Linked DNA regions of Homo sapiens. The protein of the gene in region 1 purifies or fractionates together with the protein of each later gene. This does not show direct contact. Each region holds a gene or a part of one and is shown in the gene's direction. Other genes may lie near its edges.

Region 1 (2,978 bases):
GGAGCAGGGCAGCTGGCTGGACCAGAAAGTAGAGGGCCCATGGGAGTGACTGCACCCTTGGTGGCTGCTGGAAGGGGAGAGGTTCTCAGCATCAGGCCACCTCCACCCCAATGCCAGGATAGATGTATTCTAGAGTAGGGGTGGAGGCGGCCCAGGAGGCTGAAGACAGGTGCACAGATGCTTCCCACGACCTTGCCATTTGGGGTGGGCTCTTCAACATCTCAGGCTGTGGCTGGAACAGGACAGGATGATCTAAAACACACGTACCATTGGCTGTAAAACAGTATGAGCCCAGACTGACGCTGAAATCCCTCATGAGCCAACCTTAGCTACAAGGTAGGGAGTTCTGAGGGAAGCCGCGTGCTCCTCAGGAGAGAGCTGTTTAGGTTTTCCGATCTTTTTGCTCAGGGGCCAAACACTGAAGGCACGTACTGCCCAACCCACTGAGCGCCTGAGGCCATTCCCTCCTTTTCCGCATGCCTCCTGCCTCCTGGGCTATTCCTCTCCACCCAGAAGGCTGGGAATCCCAGCTGATTCCCTGACAGGAGCCGACTTCACACACAGGTGACTCTCAGGCATTGGCTCATGTTTTCAGCCAGGGATAAACCATCCCTTCTTGGGGCTTTAAGTCCCTGGGGAGCTTTCCCTGTAGGTCTCCTGGGTGTTGAGAGACAAGTTGGAGACCAACCTCCAATGAATGAGCCGCGGTCATTCATTAATTCACTCACGTAATTTACTGAGTAGCTGCAACATGCCAGCCTCTACGTTAGGTTCTGCGGATAAAGGAGGAATAAGACAGAGTCAGGAGAACTGTTCCTTGTGGTTTCCGTCCCTTGGGGACCACAGGCATCAGCAGTCCCATTCAAGTCACCTGAGGCAAAGTGTCTGCATCTTCGTCCAGCGACCCTTTGCTTTTCGGCTCCTAGAATCCTTAGAGTCTGAATTCCTTTAGCTGGGAACAGCTGTCATGGTCACCCCTGGATAACATTTGCCACCAAGTATAGATGCTGGATCTTGGGTTCCAGGCAGACATCATCCAGGTCCATCTGGAACTTTCAGTGATAGCTGCCTTCAGCCAGCATCTTTGGGGGACTCTATAATAGCAGCTTGAGATCAGTGTCTAGAAGACTGTTCTGCAATTTGCTGCCAAATGCATCTCAGGTTTTTAAAGTCATTGTTTCTTGCTCATGGTGGCTCATTTATTACATAGTCCCCTCACCCCACTAATGGATAATGGGAGGAAAAGTTGCTGCTTCCTTCAGCATCAAAGCCTTTCCTTGGGAATCTGCCTCCCTCCATGGCAGGGGTGGATTCGGGAGCTGGGAGTAACCAGGCAAAGTCAACCAGATGCCTAGCTCCTGCTGAGACCCAGGTCCTATGGCAGCTCCTCATTAGATTAAAGGAGACCACTTCCAAAGCAGGTGCTGCATGGCTCACCATCATATGCCCCAAACAACTGAAAGTTGGCGGTTATCACCAGACTGTGAGTTTCTGGCAAGTAGCTTGGGGAAGCTGAATAAACTCTAGGCCCAGGGCTACTAAAGACTTCAGGATAGAATTCTCCATCAAATATACAGCATAAGTAAAACTGCTCTGCACTGTTTAATCCATTTCCAAGGGGCTTAGAAAAGCTAACAAGGGTGTGTCCCCTGTCCTGCCCCACCGGTTTGCTGGCTTTGTAATAACATAAGACCATTGTGGTTGTTGGTGTCAGATACCTTCCCATCCTGAGCTCTCTCACCTACCTGCTCTCTCTCCTAGAGCAGGATACTGGGGTACTTTTAAGAAGGGTGCTCCTTTTAAGATGCCCAGAAAAGCTGTATTTAACTCTTGCTATTTGTAACTTGGGGATGGTCTCCCCTGCCCCAGGGCACATAAGAGCAAAGGCTCCAATGGTCAGTGGATGACTCTGCAAAAGTGACCCCCTGTGCCAGAAGCTATAGCCCTCTCCCCAACAGGTCTCTCTTGTTGGCCAGAGGGCCTGCTTCCCATGGGCATTGCAAGTGCCACCGTGCGGGGCCTGGCTCTGCACACCCAGGAAAAGTCTGCAGACCCCCAGCCCTCCGCAATAATTCACCAGACCAGAAGCCACTGGTGTACAGAGAACACTTAAAAAAATGTATTTTATGTGAAAAAAAATTAAAACTCTGTATACTGTATCAGCAGCTTTGTGTAAAAATGGCAATCAAGAGAGTCTAATATATTTAAAACTTTTTTAAAAAAAATCTTCGCAGATCTTTGATATCGTACTGAGGTAACTTCCACGTAGCCCCTTGCCACGCGGCACCGGTGGGCCTTGGGTCCAAAACTGTGGCTCAGCCACATCCCAAAGGGGGCACATGTCCCTGGAGTTGCTTCCAGCTGCCAAGGCCTGTGACAGAATTCGCTGTTAAGAGTTTTTAATTAAAATTATTAAATTCCTTTTAATAACACCTGCTAGTGTGAGTGATTATTGCTGTGAGCTCACTTGAACAGTGCTGACTTGAATTCACAAAGAGGAGGTTCCTGGAATAGAGGGTGGGTGAGAGCTCCTAGTCTCTTCCCCCTTACCCCACCCCTTTCCCACAGAGGGCTTTCCCATGAGACCCCTGAAATAGAGGGAGCTCTGGGGGCTCAGACCTGGAGCAGATGTCTCCCCAGACTAGGAGATGGTGAAAACTGATGAATTCAAGAAAAGGTGGGTGGTTGGGAATGACCTTCATTCTGTCAAATAATCTCTTTGAAATTAACATGAGGCCGTATAGTAGCATATATTTATTCCATACATTTTCAAAGTTTTTCCTGATATTTATTTATTTATTTTTATTTTTTTAAGATGGAGCCTCACTCTTTCACCCAGTCTGGAGTGCAGTGGCGTGATCTCAGCTCACTGCAACCTCTGCCTCCCGGGTTCCAGCAATTCTCCTGCCTCAGCTTCCCAAGTAGCTGAGATTACAGGCGCTCGCCGTGATGTCCAGCTAATTTTTTGTATTTTTAGT
Region 2 (3,650 bases), on another chromosome or scaffold:
GTTCCTCAAAGTCCCATAAAGTGGATGTGAATTCTCATTGACATGTGTGGGTTCAGTTGACAGGCGGGTCGAGTCTGAAGAATCCGGCGATGAAGAAGGGAAGAAACACAGCAGTGGCATCGTGGCCGACCTCAGTGAACAGAGCCTGAAGGATGGGGAGGAGCGGGGGGAGGAGGACCCAGAAGGTACCAGGCCCAGCTCCCTTGGGGACATCTGCTGGTTGGGGGATGTGGGCTGTGCTGCACGTGGTCTGGCCCTGGGTGTGGGTGCTGTGTCGGTCTGGAGAAGGACTGCCGTGCTCCTTAGGGGTCCTCAGTGGCCCAGGGCAGGTGGATATGCTCTTTGAGGTGCTCCTTCAGCAGGCTGACTCATTGATGGCGTTTGCAAAAAGGATGTGGTTTTTTCCAATTCCACTGAAGGCAAATCCTAGCACAAATATGGGTACTAGTATGCCGTCTGAGACAGAACCATGACATTGTTGGCCAGATGCAGTGGCTCATGCCTGTAATCCCAGCACTTTGGAAGGCCAAGGCGGGTGGATCACGAGGTCAGGAGATCAAGCCCATCCTGGCCAACATGGTGAAACCCTGTCTCTACAAAAAATACAAAAATTAGCTGGGCGTGGCAGCGTGTGCCTGTAATCCCAGTTACTCAGGAGGCTGAGGCAGGAGAACCGCTTGAACCCAGGAGGTGGAGGTTGCAGTGAGCCGAGAACACACCACTGCACTCCAGCCTAGGTGACAGAGGGATACTCCTTCTCAAAAAAAAAAAAAAAAAAAAAAAAAGGAAAAAGAAAAGAACCGCAATATTGTTATATTAACCATATGTTTAGGAAATGAGATTCGAAATAAATGTTATGGCTGACTGCTGTGTTTCTATGTCCTACCATAGCAATAGAAACCTTTAATCTCTGAGAGAAATTATTTCTGAGTCTTGCCTTACCATTTTTATAGGCCTGAGGATTGACTTCTAAAGTGCCTAGATGTGGCCGGGCGTAATGGCTTACGCCTGTAATCCTAGCACTTTGGAAGGCCAAGGCGGGTGGATCACTTGAGGTCAGGAGTTCGAGACCAGCCTGGCCAACATGGTGAAACCCTGTCTCTACTAAAAATACAAAAAAAAGAAAAAAAGAAAAATTAGCCAGGCATGGTGGTGTGCACCTGTAGTCCCAGCTACTCAGGAGGCTGAGGCAGGAGAATCGCTTGAACCAGGGAGGCAGAGGTTGCAGTAAGCTGAGATCACACCACTGCACTCCAGCCGGGGTCAGAATGAGACTCCATCTCAAAACAAAAAAGTTTCTGAACAGTATGCATGCATGTATGTACTTTTACCTGCTAAAGAAAGAAAACACATCAAACGGGCTGAGTCTGTCCAAACAGCAGGTTTAAGAAGGATCTATACATTTTGTGTTTTCTAGATTTGTATACAGTGTATGAATAATCATGCATCCCTTATGAAAATAAATTTATGAAGAAACAAACCTAATTTTTAAAATAACATTGTGCTCTCTGTGCCAGCAAAGATGATTGGTAACTATGGCAACCTACTTTTAAGTCACAAGGAGATTACCACAAAAGTACCAGTCACATTCACTTTGGAACTTTGAGGCTGATGTTCTGGAAGTGATGTGGGTGGAATAAAGTGCATGGGAGTGATAGATGGAAGCTTCCGTCATCGCCTGACTTAGTCACCAACAGTGGAGCGGTAGGAGCCCCCGCTATCCTCAGATGGGTGCTGCTGAGACATTGGGTGTTTATGGAGGACTTGAGAGTTGGCAGAGCAAGCCTTGTGTGCTTTCTTTCCCTGGCTCACTAGCACAGGCTAATCATGTTGTCATCATGTTCTGTAAGTACACCAGTGTGGTAATGTGTTATAGATGAGGAAAATGAGACTCTCTGCAGCTTGTCCAAGGGCACACGGCTACAAGGCAGACCAGCTGGCCTGGCCTGGAAAAATCCAAGTTTTTTCTTCGAGATGATTAGCTGATTATGAATTTTCTGGGAATATGCATTTCTAGCCCTTAGAGGAGCCAAGACTTGCTCCTACCTGTATTTATTTAAGTCTTAAATTCAATTAAAACAAATTTAATCATGTCAACTGTTACCTTCTACCTATTTTCCTTAAATTATTTTTAAAATATGATGAATATATAATACACTCAGAAGGGCATTCTAGGCTGGAAACCTTGTTTCAGAGGTTAGCTGACATTTTGAGTGGTGAGCGGCCAGCCCTGCTGGCTGTATTACAAACAAGACCCCTTAAAGCCATGCGACCGTGTGTCCTGAGGAGCCTGGCACAGCCCGTTTCTGCCTGCTGGCCCAGCATAACTGTGCCCTTCTGCTCTCAAAGGGTCCTGGTTTGGACTACATGACCTGGGCGCCCTGCCTTAATTGTAGCACCTCTTCCAGTGCAACTTCCTGAGTTTATGAACGGTGACTTGACACTGTCTTTTGAGGTGATTTGTTATCTATCTCTTGGTTTTGCCCAGTTCCTTTTATTTAATTCTTAGGTTGGTATCCTTTACAGTTGTGGATAAACTATAGTAAACTTTTTTTTTTAACTAACCACAGTTGATGGTTATAGAAAAGGCATAGTGGAAAACAATGAAGTGAATGCAACCATGTGGGATCATGACTTTGTTAAGCTGGTCTGATGTCAGGTGCTCCTCTCAGAGGCCTCCAGGTGAGAGGAGGAGCCAGGCTGGAGGAGCCAGCCCTTGGCATGGGGTCCAGGGCTGTGTGAGCTCACTCCCCTGCAGAAGCAAGTGCACGTTTGCTCTAGGAAGAGCCACAGTAACAGCACTGACAGCCCTGTAAGGTAGTGACAATGACAATCTGTTTACAGGAGAAAGAACATCCTATGCATATAATTCACAGACTCCAGACTGGGAGAAGCACTACAAGACAAACAGCTTGTTTTCCTACAACAGAAAACTGCAAGGGGAAAAAAGAAATTTAAGAAAAATGCTGGGCTGGGTGCAGTGGCTCGTGCCTATAATCCTGGCACTTTGGGAGGCCAAGGTGGGAGGATCACTTGAGGCTAGGAGTTCCAGACCAGCCTGGGCAACATAGCGAGACCCTGATTGTACAAAACATGGTTTTAAAAAATTAGCCAGGCATGGTAGCACACACCCGTAGTCTCAGCTTCCTGGGAGCCTAAGACAAGGATTGCTTGAGCCCACAAGTTCAAGGCTGCAGTGAGCTATGATCACACCACTATACTCCAGCCTGAACAGCAGAGTGAGACCCTGTCTCTTAAAAAAAAATTAATTTAAAAAAGTTTTTTAAAAGAGAAATACCATCTAGTCACAATATACAGCCTTATTTGGATCATAATGCAAGTAAACTAAGGAAAGAAATGTTAAGACAGTTGAGGAAATACGAACACTGACAATCTTTGGTGATATTGAGGAATTACTGTTAATTTTTTTAAGTGTTTTGAGGGGTGAGTGTGCGTGTTTGTGTGTCTGCATGAGTCTGTGTATACCACTGTTGTGCATGCGTGTGTCTGTGTAGTGTGCATACGTGCCTGTGTGTCTTTGTGCATGCGTGTGTGTGTGCATCTGTGTGTGTCTTAGTCCTTTTCAGCACACATGCTGAAGTAGGTTCCAATGAAATGAAATGAGGAAGTGCTTAACAGGGAAGCTGTCG
Region 3 (3,650 bases), on another chromosome or scaffold:
GGAAGGGGGAGGGAGGGGCCGCTCTCAGAAGGGGTATGGCTGGCGTGGAGGGCAGAAGCCAGCCTTCATTAGGCCCTGAGCAGGCAGGTGGCTGGCCCGTCAGCGGCCCCCTTGCAAGGACTCCTGAGAAGTCAGACAGGCTGCAGGTCATCTCCCACCCTGCCCTCCTCAGCACCAGGCAGCTCAAAGCCCATCCCAGGCAGTCTCCTAGCTCCAGGGAGCTAGGAGAGCTGTGCCACCTGTGCCTCTTTCTCTCCCGTGGGCTGTATAGCACCTTGCTGGCCCACCTGGACTGAGAAGCATCAGAGTCCTGGTAGGGGTAGGCCCAGTAGAGCGCATGGCCCCCGTGACCCTCACAGCCAGAGTTGGCGCGGTGGGTGGGAATTGTAGGTAGATTTCAGCCAGCTTTAGGGAGCAGCTGTTTTAGGGTCACTGCTGCCCAGCCATGGAGTGAGCTCTGTGTCACTGGGGGTATGCAAGCAGGGACAGGAGACGTACTTGTCAAGGATATGGTAGCAGGAAGTCTGGGTTAGACTGGAAGACCTCCTTTCTGTGCGGATCTGATTCCAGCAGGAAGCCACGGCCAGGTGGCCGAGGGCCATGCTGGGCACCCAAGCAGCCCTGACTGGTGCTGTGGGCGGGCAGGCCCTCAACATATCCTTCCTGGAAGAGGACATTAACGCTCGTGATGTTTCCACACCTACCCTCACGGGACCCCAGGGAGTGGCGGCTGGGTGGGGAGGCTCACGACAGCATCATCCTTCCCACATTCTGAGTGGCCCCTGAGCCCTGATTCTTCTTTTCCAGCGATAAGTTCACACGGTTTTGCCAGTGGAAGAATGTGGAGCTCAACATCCACGTGAGTGGGCTTGGGTGGGGCATGGAAAGCCACGCACCCTGCTGCTCCTCTCCCGGGAGCTGGGCCTGTGGCTTGGCTGGGAGGGGGAGGTCAGGGGATGTCTGTCCTTTAGCCCCCAGGGCCGTGGCTATGGGGGTCAGGGCCGGGATCCCAGCATGGGGAGGCCGGAGCAGGTAAATATGTGGCAAGGATGGCCAGGACATGGGTATGGGGACCCTGGCATGGGGCCAGCCCCTGCTGCCCAGGTGCCTCTGCCCCAGGGCTGGGCAGAGGCAGCCTGTGGTGACCGCAGCTGTCGCTGCCCCTCAGCTGACCATGAATGACTTCAGCGTGCATCGCATCATTGGGCGCGGGGGCTTTGGCGAGGTCTATGGGTGCCGGAAGGCTGACACAGGCAAGATGTGAGCACCCTGCTCGGCGCGGTGGGATACCTCGGGGAGCCGGGCTCCTGGGGGACCCTGACAGGCCGGGTTCCACACAGGGCCACCTGCTGCTCCATGCACTCCTGTCTTGCCGTGCTGTTACCCCCGCAGGCTCCTCTGGCCCCAGCCCTCCCTGTCTCTGATTTGTGTCACACGCTGGTCCTGGGTCTAGTCTTTCCCTCAAGCGCCCCCTGAGGCAGCCCTGGGCCCCTGCTCTGAGGGTGGGTGTTGACTGCCGACCTCTGCCCCGTAGGTACGCCATGAAGTGCCTGGACAAAAAGCGCATCAAGATGAAGCAGGGGGAGACCCTGGCCCTGAACGAGCGCATCATGCTCTCGCTCGTCAGCACTGGGGTGAGCTGGGTGGGCCGGGCTGCCGCTGAGGCTCTGGAACCCCGGGCGCCCCTGCTAACTGCCCGCCCCCTCCCCTCCTCTCCCCTCCTAGGACTGCCCATTCATTGTCTGCATGTCATACGCGTTCCACACGCCAGACAAGCTCAGCTTCATCCTGGACCTCATGAACGGTGAGTGCTGGCCGGGCCCTAGGGTGGGCCGGGCCCAGGCACGGGAGGCTGGGGCAAGACACTGAGTGCTGCCTGTGGGACTGCCTCCCTCAGGTGGGGACCTGCACTACCACCTCTCCCAGCACGGGGTCTTCTCAGAGGCTGACATGCGCTTCTATGCGGCCGAGATCATCCTGGGCCTGGAGCACATGCACAACCGCTTCGTGGTCTACCGGGACCTGAAGGTGAGCGCCCCTGCTGTCCCCAGGCTGGACCTCCGTGGCTGTCCTCTCCTTCCTCTCGACATCCCGGCCACCAGGCCCAGAGGAGTGGGGCTCCTGGGACATGGCCGCCCCGTATCTTCCCATCTCCGCCCCTGCCCTTCCCACCGAGCCACTCTCTGGGTCCAGGTTGTAGCTGGGGACAGGAGAGAGGACCCCCACCTTTGCCCTTTCTTTGGGTACCCATCGTCCTCTCCAGTGAAGCAGTGACCCAGCTGGCATCTTGCCTGGCTGGGCCCCATCCTGAGCTGCCCCAGGCAGCTCACTGGGCTTCCTTCACAGCCAGCCAACATCCTTCTGGACGAGCATGGCCACGTGCGGATCTCGGACCTGGGCCTGGCCTGTGACTTCTCCAAGAAGAAGCCCCATGCCAGCGTGTGAGTGCCCCCCACCCTCTCCCTCCCCACCCCTTGCCACTCCCGCTTATGGCCCCCTTGCTCCCACAGGGGCACCCACGGGTACATGGCTCCGGAGGTCCTGCAGAAGGGCGTGGCCTACGACAGCAGTGCCGACTGGTTCTCTCTGGGGTGCATGCTCTTCAAGTTGCTGCGGGGGTGAGTGGCCCATCCCAGGTGGGCAGGTGGGTTGGGGCTAAGAGAAGTTCCTCCCCAATCCAGGTGGGATGCCAAAGGAGGGGAGCCCATAGCTGCCTTGGTGGTAGGGTTGGCACCGTCCCTGACTTTGGCCACAGCTCATCCATGCTGCCTGCCTCCCTTTCCCCATTCCTGTCCTTTGACATTGGTTTTTGGCCTTTCTTGCCCAGGCACAGCCCCTTCCGGCAGCACAAGACCAAAGACAAGCATGAGATCGACCGCATGACGCTGACGATGGTGGGTGCAGGTCTCAGTGCAGGGCCGCAGGGGGCTGGGGGGAGCTCCTGTGGGTGCCAGGCCATGACTCTTGCTTCCCACCAGCCAGCAGAGATCTGGGCCACTGACCCCTACTCTGGCCTCTGAGACAGACCTCCTGCCCCATAGGCTCTCGCCCTCCCCGTGCTGTTGGAGCATGACTGCTGGGCGAGCTAGGATGCTGTGCCCCATCTGTCCCTCTGCGGGGGCCTGGACCCCTCTCTCCCCTGAGCTGGGATGGGGTCAAGGGCTCTTCCTAAGCCCCTGCTAATGTCCCACTCCTCTCTAAAGGCCGTGGAGCTGCCCGACTCCTTCTCCCCTGAACTACGCTCCCTGCTGGAGGGGTTGCTGCAGAGGGATGTCAACCGGAGATTGGGCTGCCTGGGCCGAGGGTGAGTACCCTGGCGCCTTGGGCATGCTGCTGGCTGTGCCCCCATGAGGACAAGGGCTGTGTCCCGTCACCTGGAACCCCCTCCAAGGTCCCAGCCTCCTTGGAGGAGCTCATAAGTTGGGGCATGGCCAGCCCTGTCCAATGTTCTCAGAGTGGAGGGGCTGCCCTGGGAGTTGGAGCTGCTGGAACCAGCTAGTAACTGGCTTCCAGAGGGGCCCTTGTCACAGATGATGATGATAGCAGCTTTTTATGTTTATCAAACATTTATTAAGCACTGGGCATAGGGTTGCAAAATTTACCAGTGTTAAAACCCACAACCCTACGATGTAGGAACTTCTGTTCTCCCA

What was found.
Region 2: the proteins of PPP1R16B (region 1) and PPP1R7 purify together in Homo sapiens (co-immunoprecipitation; 3 studies listed by BioGRID and IntAct, with this or other methods). This does not show direct contact.
Region 3: the proteins of PPP1R16B (region 1) and GRK2 purify together in Homo sapiens (affinity purification with mass spectrometry; 2 studies listed by BioGRID and IntAct, with this or other methods). This does not show direct contact.

The regions. Positions count from the first base shown.
Region 1 is NC_000020.11:38,920,593-38,923,570, forward strand, and holds the end of PPP1R16B (protein phosphatase 1 regulatory inhibitor subunit 16B isoform 1 precursor), read left to right. Parts: 3' UTR 1-2,432; downstream 2,433-2,978. UniProt on the Homo sapiens protein: Regulator of protein phosphatase 1 (PP1) that acts as a positive regulator of pulmonary endothelial cell (EC) barrier function. Involved in the regulation of the PI3K/AKT signaling pathway, angiogenesis and endothelial cell proliferation.
Region 2 is NC_000002.12:241,153,420-241,157,069, forward strand, and holds part of PPP1R7 (protein phosphatase 1 regulatory subunit 7), read left to right. Parts: intron 1-56; coding exon 57-185; intron 186-1,598; exon of another isoform or gene 1,599-1,845; intron 1,846-3,650. UniProt on the Homo sapiens protein: Regulatory subunit of protein phosphatase 1.
Region 3 is NC_000011.10:67,279,925-67,283,574, forward strand, and holds part of GRK2 (beta-adrenergic receptor kinase 1), read left to right. Parts: intron 1-807; coding exon 808-859; intron 860-1,168; coding exon 1,169-1,260; intron 1,261-1,534; coding exon 1,535-1,634; intron 1,635-1,725; coding exon 1,726-1,804; intron 1,805-1,897; coding exon 1,898-2,028; intron 2,029-2,346; coding exon 2,347-2,441; intron 2,442-2,510; coding exon 2,511-2,618; intron 2,619-2,827; coding exon 2,828-2,894; intron 2,895-3,203; coding exon 3,204-3,304; intron 3,305-3,650. UniProt on the Homo sapiens protein: Specifically phosphorylates the agonist-occupied form of the beta-adrenergic and closely related receptors, probably inducing a desensitization of them. Key regulator of LPAR1 signaling.